Linked DNA regions of Homo sapiens: region 1 is linked to region 2. Evidence: fine-mapped expression QTL. A gene starts in region 2. The other region holds a variant in brackets. All regions are shown on one strand. Distances are from middle to middle.

The links. PIP is the estimated chance that this variant, and not a neighbour inherited with it, causes the effect.
Region 1: its variant is the best candidate, but not a certain one, in a credible set for the expression of TRIM38 in whole blood (TOPMed, PIP 0.76).

Annotation. Positions count from the first base shown.
Region 1 is chr6:26,057,797-26,063,183 of GRCh38, reverse strand. No RefSeq gene overlaps it. Among named protein-coding and RNA genes, the nearest start is that of H1-2, 4.0 kb to the right of the region's middle. The variant T/GT (reference allele first, on the strand shown) is at 2,879.
Region 2 is chr6:25,960,427-25,965,813 of GRCh38, reverse strand. It overlaps TRIM38 (tripartite motif containing 38), which reads right to left and starts at 3,012. Exons shown (of 8, transcript NM_006355.5): 1 at 2,959-3,012; 2 at 2,532-2,765.

The sequences.
Region 1 (5,387 bases), 97 kb before region 2:
AAGAAACAGAAGGATATCATACAGCAAGGATCTAATGCAAATATGCCTCAAATGAGAGGCTACTGTGTGCTGATCCCAATCCCAGGAACTGTATGCACATTATCTAATTTAATCCTCACTGTATTTCTGGGAGTATTATTCCCATTTTACAGAGAAGGAACTTGGCAGGGTAACCAAGCTCATGAATGGAGAAACTGGGATTAAATATAAAGCTTCCTTGCTCCAGAACTGCTGTCTTTCTGCTCTTCCACACTACCAGCTCAGCTGTGCTCTCTACATGCAGGCAGTTTTACAAGTTTCAGATTAGCCTGGGACTTCCAGGGTTTTGAATGGGTTAGGGAATGGGGAACTTTTGGGTTTACTTTCCATTTTTTCTTCATACATATGTAATATATAACATAAATCTATGGTATATATGATAAATATATGGCTACATATGAACTATATAATCACATATATGCATTATAAATAAATATTAATTTTATAATATTTTAAAGGTTATCAAATAAATATTAATATAAATAATTAAATAATTAATACTCAGCTTTGTTTTCCAAAGTGATAAATGCCTATATTTAGCAAAATATTTTTTGGAGGCCTGATAGTTTTTAGGAGTGTAAAGAAGTCCTGATATCTAAATGTTTAAGAACCACTATTTTAGGCTGTTGTCTTCTGTCTTATTTTCCCAGCTAGACTGGTAAATACTTGAAGGCAAACGTTTAGCCAGCACATTAACATTTTATGTTTTTATTCTTTTGTGCTCTCAGTGGCTGTGTCTTTTCTATCGATTTCTCACACTGTATGATGGTTATATTTGTCTGTATCTGTCCCACCAGGTATAAGTTCTTGAGAGGACACACTGCTAGGCTGATCTTAGTTTTTATTATTTCTCCTGGTGTCCTGTGCTTAACAAGTGCTCATTAAGTGTGTAAAAACACAGCACAGTAAAAAACTAGACATTAAAAAATAATGTCAACCAATCTATTGAAATTTGCATTTCCATGTTTCTTCCAATATAGTCATTGTGTCAGGTTATGTACTTATTCTGATGAAGACTATTGCCTAATATACGTTTGCATCTTGTGCTTTATAACTGCCTTCATATAGACACAGATTGAGAAGGTGTAAAAATGTGCATATCCTCACAATTGACAAATTCTTATCCTTTGAGGGTAGGTTTGACTTTCTGAAATGCTTTGACATCATTTGAAAGAAGCTTGAAGAATAAGATAGCTGTTAATGACCCAGTTTCCTATGTCACTTATACAATTATAATGGCAATTTCAAAATGTTAGGTAAATATATTTTGCAATATATTGTTCCTTTTGTAATACTCTCTATGTATTTATTTATATTTTTAAATTTTATATTTATGTATTTATTTTTCTGGACAGAGTCTTGCTCTGTTGCCCAGGTTAGAGTGAAGTGTTGTGATCATAGCTCTCTGCAACTTCAAACTGCTTGGCAAAAGTGATCCTCCTGCCTCAGCCTCATGAGTAGAGTAGCGGGAACTACAGGCGCATGCCACTGCACCCAGCTAATCACTATTTATTATGCTCCTACTGTGTGCTTTAGTATATTTTCTGTTGTTTTCTGCAACCCATTTTGAGGGCGTGTTAGGGAATACAGATGCAGTAACTTTCGTCTCAGCCCTTGAGGTGAGGAAATATTTAGCCTCAGGTTTAATCTAATTGTTGGCCATTTGCCTTCAAAGATTGAAATATGAGCAAAACTGTGGCTCTGGGTTATATGTTAAAAAAAAGTTTATGGGGCTGAAGCCAGGCAACAGACAAGAGCCCCTACAATCTTATTTAGGCTGAAAATATCCTGGAGTCCCTGTATTGTTGGTCTCAAGCAGATAGCAACACTAACACTTACTCTTTGAGGCAGGCACTGCCAGTGGGGTGGCTGTTATTATTAGCTTCATTAATTGGTGAGTCAGGAAAAAACAGCTTTAAATCATTCAAAGTTCTGGCCTATACAGGATTTAGTAATATTAGGTTAGCTACATCCAAAAGATGACAGAACCCTACTCTAAGGCTGGGCTTGGTGGTTCACACCTATAATCTCAAAACTTTGGGAGGCTGAGGCAGGAGGATCACTTGGTGCCAAGAGTTTGAGACCAGCCTGAGCAACATAGTGAGACCCCTGTCTCTATCAAAAACAAAGAACTCTAATTGGCATAGTAGAAGGAAAAAGTGAAAGAAAAACCAGCTGTCACCCTCATTCCTTACACCTGTCCTAACAACTCCTCTCACTATCCTTTGAATATATCTTGGCTGTTTGAGTCTCTCTCTAGCCCCATTACTGCTGTTTGGACTTGACATTTTGCTCTGCATTTTTAACTTTTCTACCAGGGTTTCCAGACCCTGAAGAGTGTGGCATGAAACAAAACTAGTCAACCTATAATATTTATGATGTGTGTGTAAATAAAAGAATACACAATATATTGCATTACAATATTTTAACTGTGTCCTCAATTTGTTTGTGGCTTTCTTGAGGACATCAGTTTTGGGTGGGACGACCACATCCTTAATCTGAACTTTCCCTTGGAGGTCATTCTTTTTTTTTTGAAATAGAGTCTCGCTCTGTCACCCAGGCTGGAGTGCAGTGGCGCAATCTCAGCTCACTGCAACGTCCGCCTCCTGGGTTCAAGTGATTCTCCTGCCTCAGCCTTCCAAGTAGCTGGGATTACAGATGCACGCCACCATGCCGAGCTAATTTTTGTATTTTTAGAAGAGACGGAATTTCACCATGTTGGTCAGGCTGGTCTTAAACTCCTGACCTCATGATCTGCCCACCTCAGCCTCCTAAAGTGCTGGGATTACAGGCGTGAGCCACCCCGCCCGGCCAGAGGTCATTCTAATAGACTTTTTTT[T/GT]TGTTGTTGCTCACAGGCTTGTTCAATCTTATTTCAAAATTTGAGAAATACAGTTTCCATGGAACACCAACCAGATATCAGGTTGCTATGGAGTTGATAGTCAAAAGCTTTGTATCTTCCAGTTTTTCAGAATGGCTTCTAAAGGTTCTGATTCAGAGCTCTTAGGCGAAATTGAACAACCAAGTGTCAAAGTACAACATTCAGGAAGTTAAAAACATGACTGACATATATGTACTATATATAGTGAGCTTGTGTATGTGTCAATGAATGATTTAATTCATTAATGAAGGAGGAAGCAGAATCACAATTAGGTCAAAGGAAGATACGGGAGAATAAAATATGTATTTGGTCAGGGAAAGGATGTATACTGGAAGAGGAAGGGAAAATCAGATATAAAGTTGTTTAATGACTTATTAGGCAATACAATAATAACTTTTAGGGTCATTTTTTCTATATTAAGAATTCATTTCCATCTCTATGACAAAATCCTTATTAATTTATTAAACTTCTACAAGTGAATGTTTACTTTTAGATAGTCTGGACCCAATAAAATGTAAACATTAAGTCAGAGTTACTTTCACGTAGGACAGTGTTGTCCAATAAGGTACCACTAGCTACACGTGATCATTGACCATTTGGACTATAGCTAGACTGATTTAAAATGTTCTAAAAGTGTAAAATACACACCAGGTTCTGAAGATTTATCATTTAAAAAAGAATGTCAACTGTCTTTTTTTTTAGCTTATTTATTATATGTTGAAGTGATAATAGTTTAGATATATTAAGTTAAATAAAATATCTTAAAATTAATTTTACTTGTTTCTTTTCATTCTTTCAATGTGACCACTAGAAATCTGGAAAGTATTTATGTGATTCACATTCTATTTTACTGTCTAGTATTGCCTTACATCATCAGGTACCCCATAAGTAGGCTTTTTAGATAATTCTCTAATATAGCTTGGAAGGATATGGAGAAATATTTTTGCGTTGCTTTTAAGTTTTGCATAACTTTTTCAACACACTTTATAAAGGATCTAGAAAAGGGTTGGTTACATGTTTCTCTGTCTTCTGGCCTCCACCATGTTGCCAGGAGGTTGGGGACAAGATTCTGGGTGGCTGGATGTCCTAATGGCTTGAGGTCTGGACTTGAGATTTGCATATAAAGAGATGTGATTAGATTGAGTCGACTAGAAAAATCATATTAGAGAACTGAATCACAGCGATTAAATTTACATGTCGATTTATAAACCAGGACACCAATTTATAGTGAAAGAAGGTCCAGTTACCTGGTAATCAAGACGTTTCATAGCTATTTTCATGATGGATATACTTAGCTGAGTTTTAAATGAGAAGGGGGTTCATTGCACATAGAATAAGATCTAAGTGAAATGTTTATTTTATTTTTTTTTTTTTGACATGGAGTCTTGCTCTGTTGCCCAGGCTGGAGTGCAATGAGGCAATCTCGGCTTCTGGAGTGCAATGAGGCAATCTCGGCTTCTGGAGTGCAACGAGGCAATCTCGGCTCACTGCAACCTCCACCTCCCGGGTTCAAATGATTCTCCTGCCTCAGTTTCCTGAGTAGCTGGGATTAGAGTTGCCTGCCACCACGCCAGGCTAATTTTTGTATTTTTTTTAGTAGAGATGGGGTTTCACCATGCTGGCCAGGCTGGTCTCGAACTCCTGACCTCAGGCGATCTGCCCGCCTCAGCCTCCCAAAGTGCTAGGATTACAGGCGTGAGCCACCAAGCCTGGCCTAAGTGACATGTTCTTATATTGTTCCTTTCTTTCTTTTTTTTTCGACTGAGTCTCACCCTGTTGCACAGGCTGGAGTGCAGTGGCGTCATTTCGGCTCATTGCAACCTCTGCTTCCCGGGTTCAAGCGATTCCCTTGCCTCAGCCTCCTGAGTGCCACCACCCCCAGCTAATTTTTGTACTTTTAGTAGAGATGGTGTTTCACCATGTCGGCTAGGCTGATCTCAAACTCCTGGCCTCAGGTGATCCGCCCCCGAGTCTCCCAAAGTGCTAGGATTACAGGCGTGGGCCACGGGGCCCAGCCTTATATTATTTCTTTTACTACAATATATTAGTATGATGCAGGTGCTTCAATTGTTTATACACTTTCCATAATTTTGTATAATTCTTATACCCTGTCACTCTGAGGAATAGCCGGTCTAAGTGTTTTTCCACCACTGCTAATTCATCCATCACTAATCTCATTAGACTGTTAATTCCCAGAGGACATAAGCACACAAGCAGACAATGTTTACAAATGTTGGACAAATGTTATTTAATAAAACAATGGGGTCACCCTTAGTCTAAAAGATGTTTCACTTTTCATTTGTCATTGAACTCTTATTTGTAGGTTCCCTTTTGACTTTCCCACAATCTAAGGCTGTTCTCTTTAACACATATTTTCATGAAAACATATATTTGAGCAGAAATTGTTGGGGAGTTGTAATATTACCTTTGTCCCTAAATATGAATCTATAATTATATCAAATATATGGGC
Region 2 (5,387 bases):
GAGTAGTAGCTGGGTCTACAGGTGTGCACCACTACGCCCAGCTAATTTTTGTATTTTTAGTAGAGATGGGGTTTCACCATGTTGGTTGGCTCGATCTCTTGACCTTGTGATCCACCCGCCTCAGCCTCCCAAAGTGCCAGGATTACAGGCATGAGCCACCGTGCCCAGCCTCTTTTTCTTTTCTTATAAGACAAGTTCTCGCTCTCTTGCCCAGGCTGTAGTGGAGGGCAGTGGCATGACCACAGCTCACTGCAGCCTCGACCTCCTGGGTTTAAGCAATCCTCCTGCCTCACCCTGGCAGAGTGGCTGGGACTACAGGTATGTGCCACCATGTCCAGCTAAAGTCTTCTCTCCAGAAAGAAGAAATGCATTGGAATTTAGAGGATACACAAACATCTAGCTGTATAGCTAATACAGTAGCCACTATCATGAGTAGGAATTTAAATTTAACTTAATAAAAATTAAAATGAAAAAATTCAGTTTTTCTGTTCCAGTTGCCACATTTTGATTGCTTAATAGTTGCATGTGACTAGTGGCTACATAACAGCCTCAATATACAACATTCTGTTATCACAGAAAGTTACCTTGGACCAAGTGCTGGGAGAAGCAATGCAGGCTTCCTCACAAAAGCTGTAAAAGAGAGAACTCAGGGAGTGTGAAACTCTTTCCTATTCTAGTTAACTTCAAGAATAATTGTTACCAGGCCAGCACGGTGGCTCACGCCTGTAATCCTAGCACTTTGGGAAGCCGAGGCGGGCAGATCACCTGAGGTCAGGAGTTTGAGACCAGCCTGACCAACATGGCAAAACCTCATCTCTACTAAAAATACAAAAAGTTAGCTAGATGTGGTGGTGCACACCTGTAATCCCAGCTGCTCAGGAGGCTGAGGAAGGAGAATGACTTGAGCTCCGGAGGGGGAGGTTGCAGTGAGCCCAGATTACACCACTGCACTCCAGCCTGGGTGAAAGAGCGAGAATCTGTCTTAAAAAAAAAAAAAAGAATAATTGGTACCAGAATTACTCTTTGTAATTAGTAGTAACACTTATGCAATTGGGTGATCTGTGACAGATTCCATTGAAGGAGTATGGGGAGCTTCACCCCAATATATGACTCCCTGGTATAATGAGTATTTTGAATTAAAGGCCCTTAGAGATCAGCAGATGCTGGAAGAGACTTTTCCCCTATCTACATAAAGACCAGTCACACTAGACAAGAAGAACAATTGTTTTTCCTTCCAACCCCTATTATCTCATTTTGTACTGAAGAAAAGAGGACTAAGAATGTAACCAGACCTAATCAGACACTTTCACAAAATAATGTCTGTCTCTCAGGCTCATTCATTTTCCAAAGAGAACCATTTACAAGTTAAACTCTGTTCCTCCATTCATTCATCCTCCCAAATATTCATTTATTCTCCCTAGTAATCATTTACTGCCCCTCAAAGAATTACCTATATTCTCCTGATATCACCCTTCCCCTCTGAAATAAATATGTATACATGTATAAACGTTATACATACATATTTATACAGTATACATACATATTTATACATACATACATATGCATACATATTTATATTTATGTATTTATACATAAGTATTTATAAATAAGGCTATATAAGTATCTACCCCCATTGGCAGAGGGGGTAATCACTCTGTGATTCTAGCCCATGTACTTGTTAATAAATTTGTATGCCTTTTCTCCAATTAGCCTGCCTTTTGTGAGTCGATTTTTCAGTGAACTTCAGAAGGCAAAGGGGAAGTGTTCCCTTGGCTCCTACACCATCATGACAATAAAATTTGACTCCACCTCGACCCCCCCCATCCCCCACAAAGAACAACAACCAACACTGGTTAATAAGGTCGGTTGTTTTTTGTTTGTGTTTTTGTTGTTGTTGTTTTTGCTTTCAGGAGCAGAGGTATAATAGGCAAAAGAAAGAGAAAGGAGAATAGTGAATACCTCTTCTGCAGAGAGGGGTGCCTAAGTGGGACTTCCCTGGCTAATAACGTCTTGCTAGAGACCCAACCAGGAGGATAATGGAAGCAATCAAGGCAACCAGAACAACCAGAAGAACCGGTTTATCCTTTTTGTGCCCTCTCCCTAAACTGAGGGAATAAGAATTGGAAAGAAGGCTGCAGAGCAGAGGGTTTGCTCCTGAGGAGCAGTTATTTCTATGGGATCAGAGCTCCTGCAGAACTGGGGAGTTTACTTTTACTATCTCTTCTCCAGGACAGGACCTATCTCAAGAGACATGTTCAGAGTGATTGCAACATAAAGAGTTTGCAGACCCAAGGAGGTAGGGAAGGCAGAAAGAAGATGGGGGAGGCCAGGGATAGGCAACAGAGGAGTGACCAGGAGCGAAAAAGCCTGCCTCTTCTGAGAACCTAGCTGGGCTCTCCCTGTACCCCCGATCCCTCCCCCCCGCCCGCCCCCACACCCCTACTCCTGGGAGCTCCTCTAGGACAGGGGCAGAGTCAGGAGGAAGTTTGAAGAGTGCCTAGAATAAAAAACAGTAATTTAACTACAATTACCGGGTAGGCTGTTTTCCTCTCACAATTTGATCAGTCTCTTGAAGCCACACAGAATTTCTTCTGAAGACGTGTATTCCTTGGCAGGCTATTTCCTCCAGTGATACACCAGGCCCCTCTCTGCTGGGGTCACTGCTCTTCTGGGGAGATGGGGCTCCCCTCCTTCCAAGGCTCCAGGGTTCCTGTCCTGGGCCCCACTCATCTAAGTTCTGAATCTTCTGAGATTTGGTGTAAAGTCTGGTGAAAGAAAGAGCAGGAAAGAGGTGAGAGCTGTAAAACAAAGAAAGTCCTGACCATTTTCAGAGTTGGAGGGGCCCTGCTGTCACGAAATATATTCCCCACCCCACTTGCCATCAGTACACACTCACATATCCACTGAGAAAACCTTAGCCTGGACCTTTTCCGTAACCTTCACTGCTCAGACACTTACATATTCGCTGCTAGTCCCCTCTGTTGCTGCCACTTCCTGGGTCAGGAAGTTAACTCAGACCGGATTAAACTGAGAAGTGAAACTACTGTGGGAGGCGGGGCTCATAAGATTTAGGAGAAAACTAGTGACGTTGTTCATATCATTTGCACTCCGCCTCTCCGGTAAAGGAGGGGGAAACGTAGGAAGAAAATATCCTTCTTTTACAGCAATAAAAAGAAGGAACCAATTAATAACCCTGTAAACTATCATGTGACCCCAACACAGAGTATCTAAAAACAGGAAGCCTGCAGAGGTTCAGTTCACAGACTCTGATTTGAGATCTTTCTACTTTTGCCACCAACTCCCTTGGGAGTCCTTAAGCCTTCCTAGCTGATGTTACTTCTTTTGCTATTTATGGGTTGCTTGTGGTTCTATAACTGCTCTGAAGGGTGTGGTGGAAAAAGGGGTGGTAACAGCAGTAGGACTCATTGGCATCACAAAATTCATCTGAGTCAGCTTTCTATTCTTCTCTGTCCCGTTCTGTGTCTTGTTTTTCTCCTTGCTGTCCTTCTGCAGGACTCAGATCTTCTTCAATAGCGAGGGTCAGCCAGGATAGAAAATGGGAGTCACTAGTGGCCCAGCAGTGAGTGCCCCCAGCTTAGAGCTGTGTGGGATCCCTGGGACCATCACTCTGCTTTGTGCTTTGTGGAGAAAAGGCTGTGGGGTCCAGGGTCAAGTCCTTAATGACTTAGCTCCAGCTTCTCCACTTCAAAATGAAAGGAAAAGTACTATCACCACCCGTTAGAATTATTATTTCATGGGGAAAAAAGATGGATTACTATCTCACAATAAGAGCTTGTCACATTTATAAGTCTCAGGTGTAAGAGGCATTTATGATAACAACATAATAAATGCTGGCTTAAGTAGATGCAGTGGTCCAAGGGAACCAGTAAGGGGAGCTCAGGACACAGGTGGGAGGAGAAATTAAACTTGAATTCTGGGAGCCACTGGCCTGTCTGGGCCCCTGGCCTGCCTGCTGACCCTGATAGCCAATGGAACATGGAGTTTGGCCCAGCTGCAATCCCTCTGGTCCAACTACTCAAAATAAAGGCAAGATTGGGAAACACGTTCCTTTCTTCCTATACCAAGCAGAAGACTCTTCAGCACTGCACCCTCCTGGGTGCTCACAGAGCCTTCTGTTGTTTTGCCACCTACGATTCATCATGCCCTGGCATGATGGTTGCAGACCCCATGCATAGCATGGGACATTCTACTCCTGAGGCAACCAGCACACAGAGAGAGGAGAAAGAATGAGCCCCTGAATCCTTGGTCCCACGATGAGTCCTTGCAGATATCTACAACTTTCATTGTTGTGGATGTGACTCTGTACCCAGGCATGGCTCATTCCAGATCTGTCCTATTGTCAGAGGTGTTCAAACCAGAATGACTCCATTTTGAATGGGGGCTAGGTAAAATAAGGCTGAGACCTACTGGGCTGCATTCCCAGGAAGTTAGGCATTGTAAGTCACAGGATGAAATAGGCAGTTGGCACAAGACACAGGTCATAAAGATCTTGCTGATAAAACAGGTTGCAGTAAAGAAGCTGACCAAAACCCACCAAAATCAAGATGGCAACAAGAGTGGCCTCTAGTCATTCTCATTGCTCATTATACACGAATTATAATGTGTTAGCAAGTTAGAAGGCATTCCCACCAGCTCCATAGTGGTTTATAAATACCATGGCGATGTCAGGAAGCTACCCTATATAGTCTAAAAAGGGGAGGAACGCTTGGTTCTGGGAATTGCCCACATCTTTCCCAGAAAACATATGAATAATCCACTCCTTGTTTAGTACATAATCAAGAAATAACTGTAAGTATCTGTATTAGTCCATTTTCACACTGCTGATCCAGACATACCTGAGACTGAGTAATTTATACCAGGAAAAAATGTTTCATGCTCTTACAGTCCCACGTGTCTGGGGAGACCTCACAACCACAGCAGAAGGCAAGGAGGAGCAAGTCAGGTCTTACATGGATGGCAGCAGGCAAAGAGCTTGTGCAGGGAAATTCCTTTCTATAAAACCATCAGGTCTCATGAAACTTATTGACTATCATGAGAACAGCAGTATAAATTACTCAGGGAAAGACCTGCCCCCATGATTCAATTACCTCCCACCAGGTCCCTCCCACAATATGTGGGAATTTAAGATGAGAGTTAGGTGGGGACACAGCCAAACCATATCAGTATCCTTAGTCCAGAAGCTGATGCTCTGCCTGTAGAGTAGCCGTTCTTTTATTCCTTTACTTTCTTGCTTTCACTTTACTGTGTAGACTTGCCCCAAATTCTTTCTCACACGAGATCTAAGAACCTTCTCTTAGGGTCTGGGTTGGGACCCCCTTTCTGGTAACACTATCAAAGGATCAGGAAAAGGAAGCTAGTGAATGCTA